Regions from separate parts of the Homo sapiens genome. Here region 2 is linked to region 1. Evidence: fine-mapped expression QTL. Tissue or cell type: whole blood. Region 1 holds a variant in brackets; the other region holds the start of a gene. All regions are shown on one strand. Distances are between the middles of the regions.

Region 1 (2,686 bases):
TAGGGAGGAAAATAGATGTAAATAAAGTTATTAGTTGAAAAAGAAAAGCAAGATCGAGAGAGAAATTAATTCTATTGCCATCTATTCATGAGAATCACAAGGCTGAATCAAAAGCCTTCCTGCAAACCTAGACTCACGCTGGTTCAGTTCAGAGACTCTATCAGAAAGATGAGGAGCTCATGAGTCATCCATCAATGTGATCTTGTGATTTTTCTTGTGACCACAAGACAAAGGAAGAGAAGAGTACTTTGGAGTCATTATGATGAAAATTCAGTTGAATACACTGGAAAGTCAAAACGAGAGGAGAAGGAGGAACCGAAAATCTGATTCAGTCTTGACCACCAAGTAGAATTGGGACAGAAACAATTAAGTAGGCACAGATCCAATTTGGATTATAAAAAGCTGGTTCATCAGGAAGGCCACTATAAAACCAGAAGCAAACGAAGAGTCAATTAAGTACAAAAGTTTTTACTATGACTATGCAGTGAGGTCCAAACTGTACTAAATTTGAAGTTCCCTGCCAAAGAGAAATGTAAGCTTCCCTGGTGGTATAAGTCAGAATTTCATGACATCAGCCAGATAACCACAAAAGAATATATCTTTTAGTGCTAGATGCTTCTAAGCCTTTCTCCACCCAACTAACCAACATTCACTTACTGATTTACTTATTTCTTTAACAAACACACTCCATTTCATAGCCACATTCTTTCAAAGCTGACAGGTTGAGATATATCTAAAACACAAAATCTCCAACATACATTTTCTTCTTCAATGTTGTGAGATGTATTTTTCTAAAACACTGTTCTGCACATACTACCATTCCAATATTAAAAACAAGTTAGTTATCCACTGCCTTTTTTGTACAAATGAAATTCATAAATTTTAATTTGGTTACAAAAAAATTTTTCATCAAAATTTTTGCTTATTTGTTTATATAAAAATGGAGACAGGGTCTCACTATGTTGCCCAGGCTGGCCTCAAACTCCTAAGCTCAAGTGATCTTCCCACCTTGACCTCCCAAAGTGATAGGATTACAGGCATGCGATACCAAGCCTGGTATAATTTAAATTTTTAATTAAAAATTGTTAATTTGTCTACAAAATAAATATATACTCATCATCAAAAACTTTCAAAGAAGAAGATTAAAATCACCATAATTCCAACACCCAGACACAATCACAATCACTTCTGTAAGTTAGGATATACTGACAGCCTATGTGACAGGGAAAAAACTAAGTTGTAAGAATTTTTTAAAAACCTCCTATTCCCCATTACAGTAGATTTTATTACTCAAAATATTTGCTGCCCCACCCTGGGGAAGATAATACTTCCCCA[C/T]TTCATTGCATCAGCCTTAGAGATGTGGTTTGAGGTGTCCCTTCTTGTGGGAGGATTACATATTCTCATCTCCTTGACCTCAAGAGTGGCCATGAGACTTGCTTTGACCAATGCAATGATAACAGAAGTGATGTGTGCCACTTCGAAGCAGAAGCTCTGATTCATCATATGGTTCTACTATGTTCGTTCTCTCTTCCATGAAACCAGCAATATCCCAAATACAGACTGCTGGTCCCAGGATGGAAAACTTAGAGCAAAGCTACCGGTAGCCCACAATGTGAGCAAGAACTGAACTTTAGTCATTGTAAGCCACTGAGGGTTTTGGAGTTGCTTGTTACCACAGCATAACTTAGCCGACACTGACTGATACCACCTACCTCCAAAATGTCATCTGAGTTTTCTTTATGTCTGAAGAGAGCCTTTATGCATTGAAATAAATACTCCCTTTAATTTCAACTTATATTTTATATATTTAAATTATATGTTTTAAAACTTAATTTTGAAGACTTTAAACTTGTGTTAATTTATAAATCAGTTTTGTTAATATTTTATTATCTACTTTTATTTGGTTTTGATGAATGCCCAACTGGCTTGTAAATTTGATAAGGTACTCCCAAATATTTATCAAACTTTCAGAATTAAGTTTTAGACATTTCAAACTACAATCTAATTTTAATTGATTTCTCAAGGAAAAAAACAACAAAGCAGACTCACATTTCTATAGGCAAAATCTTAATAAACACTGAAAACATACTGAACTTAAAAAGTTTAACCTTACAAATTTAATAAATTATAAATTTAAAGATTTAACAATTTAAACATTTGAACATTATTTCAAACTTAGTTATCAACATCTTATAAATTTTTACTAATATTTTGAGTCTAATGAATCAGTCTCTTTACTTACCTTAAAAAGCAGAAAAATATACACAAAATACTATAATGGTTACAAAACTTATTTCTAGATAAAATTTATGACTAGACATAACTTAGCTTGTCTTCCAAGGGTCTTTGAAAGTATGTTTGTTTTCTGGCAATAAGAAGATATTTCCAGACTCATCTTGATATTTCCTGCCGTAAAACATGCAATGAATTTTTCTCCAGGGAGCCCAGTGCCCTCAGGGTCTTCTGGCTGGAATGCAGATTAGATGGATTGGCAAAGCAGCTGCTGGGGCCACAAGGGGAAACCAGAAATCCACAGTAATCTTTGACCTGACGTCCTTGAGCTGCTGAACCAACATCCCAGGTTTTTAAGTCCCTGTGGTCCATTTGTCAAATGCAATTCCTTACTGATATAATGGTTATACAAATAAAGAAGCCCAGAGAAAGCACTGCATATGGAAAGGAAAGA
Region 2 (2,686 bases), 130 kb after region 1:
GTAAGGTGGTGACCATTCTCATTCTCTTTCTCTCTCTGCCTGACACAGGGAAAAAAAATCATTTCGTCTCAGTCGTCAAAAGCCTCAATTTCCTCAACTCTGAAAAGGCCAGCTTTAATGTATGCCAAGCACAGTATTAGACCTCAAAAACCAAGACAGCTCCACGTGGCCACTCTAAACAGGACAGATTATCTGCCAGTATAATCGCCGGTTACAGAAACCCACAGTTTAACCACTCCATCACTTACAGCTGGCCTCGATTGTGGAAAGGCTGAGTGTCAGCAAGAACACCCCGAACCAGGATGCTCCCTAGAGTCTGATTCGTTCGTGAAAACACTCCATTAAAACTCTGTACCGAAACGCTGATAATCCACATGTAAAGGGAGAAAAGAGCTCCACATCCAAGAGACTCACCTACTTCGTTTTTTCTAACTCTGCAGGAAGGAGTGAAACCAGCATTACAGGGCTAAGACGTACTAATTCTACACTGATGCAGTAACTGGTAGGAGACATAATGTTTTAAGACATCATAGGTTTAAATAGGCGAGAGTTAAAAAACAGGTTCGAACAAGTTTATTTGCAAAGAGAGGCAGGAAGGTTCCAGCCCTACCCAGGCAGTCGTGCTAGTACCGAGCCAGGGTTGGGTCGGGAAATTCAGGAAGCAGGGCTGAGTTTTCCCTTCGCCCAGACCTGCGCCCGGTAGTTTGGAAGTCAGGCTTCGAGACATTCTCAAAGGTACAGAGCCCACGCTCGACTACGAGATGCCAAGCGCAACCTGCCTGGGTTGTTTGACCCGAGTTTTATTCAGGGCATAGCAAAGGAGACGGTGCCTAAACCCACTTTTCTTCCTGGATTCATCCGACAAGCAGAGTGGAGAGGGCTACGGAGCTCAGCGCTATTCACCAGTGCTCGGCGCAAGAGGCGACACGCCCCTGGAGCAGTCGGGATCCTCCGCCCGAGCCCGGCACGCCCCGCTCCACGCGGAGTCCCGGAGGCCGGACGGGAAGACCCCGGGGTAGCCTCTCGGGCTTCCCCCTGCCCCTTCCCGCCCGCCCAGGGCACAGGATTTCCCGGACGGCTGAGCGCCGCGGGGCCAGCCCGAGCGACCCACCCGGGCCCTACGTTCGGCCGCGGAGCTGGGAGCGCACCCAGGCAGGTCCTCCACGCCTGGACTCCTGGCCCGGTTCTCCGATCTGACAACCCCCGCGCTGCGCCCGGCCTCGCTCACCTGGCCCGCACAGCACTGAGCTGACATCGCGGCGGCCAATGCCGAAGGCGCGCTCGCTGGCTCCCCGCGCCGCACGGGCCCTCCTGGCTGCCTCGCGCCTCGAGCGCTGGGCTCAGCCGCAGCTCACACTTGAACGAAGATCAGCCTCGGCGAAGCGCCTAGGCGCCGAGGCCTGGGTAAAAACAACTGCGGCCAAGCCCCGCCCCGCCGCCGGCCCCGCCTCGCCCGCCCCCAGCCCCGCCCCGTGCCCGCCCCTTCCCGGGCGCCCGGCGGCGGAGCAGGCTCGACCCGGGCTCGCACTTCCGCTGGCGTCAGGCGGGTGGGCTGCTGCGATCACTTCCCGGTTGGGGCGCCGAGCTCCGGAGTCGGCCGCCAGCCTTTGGGCCCCACGCTCCGGGTCTGGTGCGCGGTCTGGCCGCGCTCGGGCCCTCGCCAAATGAGAGCGCAGCGCCTCTCCGCCTTCGGATCCAGAGAAAGAGCTTGTTGCTGCCTCTAAAAGGTTGGAGCCTTAGTAAGCGGTTCCTGCCTTTCCTGCACAGACCAGACCGCCGGGTGCTGGTCTGCGCTCTGCCGCGCGCCGACTGGGACAGCCCACCCACGAGATCCTTGTTCCTGAAATCCCTTTCCTTCCCTCATCTGCCAAGAAAACTTTCAACTTTTGGGCTCTCCGCGCCTCCCAAGCTTCCTCGAATCCCTGGGCCCTTGACTGTTCTGCCCTGATGGCACTTGGTGAGAGATCCATTGAGAGCCCTTTCCGTGCCTTCCTGAATATTGATATGTTTTCCAGCCTCTCCTCCTGCGCTGGCCCAAGGACTCATTTTCCGTCCCTGCTTCCTCACTAAAAAGAGGGTGCCCAATAATTGCTTGTTCCATACAGAAGGCAGGGAGGCCGTCTCTAGGTTTTCTCCCACTCAGATCTGCTGTCCTCACAGCCACCTCCCCAAGAGGAATGAAGGTATTTCTTTTTTTTTTTTCTTTTTTTTCTCTGAGACGGAGCTTCACTCTGTCGCCCAGGCTGGAGTGCAGTGACGCGATCTCGGCTCACTGCAACCTCTGCCTCCCGAGTAGCTGGGATTACAGGCGCCTGCCACCACGCCCGGCTAATTTTTTGTATTTTTAGTAGAGACGGGGTTTCACCATCTTGGCCAGGCTGGTCTCGAACTCCTGACCTCAGGTGATCCGCCCGCCTCGGCCTCCCAAAGTGCTGGGATTACAGGCGTGAGCCACCGCGCCCTGCCGGAATGAAGATATTTCTGTTAGTGCGATTTTTGCGCCAATCCCTTTGCTCTTTCAAATAAGCATTACCGTACCCATTTTAGCGGTGAGGCAACTGAAGCCCAGAGAGGTTAAATAACTTGCCCAAAGCCTCACAGCAAAGTTGAGGAAGTAAAACTGGGCCTGGAATCCACTCGTCTGATCCCCTGGCACATGACGCAAGGCTTGACCTTAGAGGGACTC

What was found. PIP is the estimated chance that this variant, and not a neighbour inherited with it, causes the effect.
Region 2: SERINC5 starts here. The variant in region 1 is fine-mapped to the expression of SERINC5 in whole blood (TOPMed, PIP above 0.99). The same link has a PIP of 0.9 or more in monocytes.

What each region holds. Positions count from the first base shown.
Region 1 is chr5:80,125,835-80,128,520 of GRCh38, forward strand. It overlaps a transcript of SERINC5 not described here. Among named protein-coding and RNA genes, the nearest start is that of THBS4-AS1, 44 kb to the left of the region's middle. The variant C/T (reference allele first, on the strand shown) is at 1,336.
Region 2 is chr5:80,254,668-80,257,353 of GRCh38, forward strand. It overlaps SERINC5 (serine incorporator 5), which reads right to left and starts at 1,381. Exons shown (of 12, transcript NM_001174072.3): 1 at 1,229-1,381. The coding sequence starts at 1,255. RefSeq lists silencers at 864-1,143, 1,254-1,693 and enhancers at 1,547-2,480, 2,481-2,686.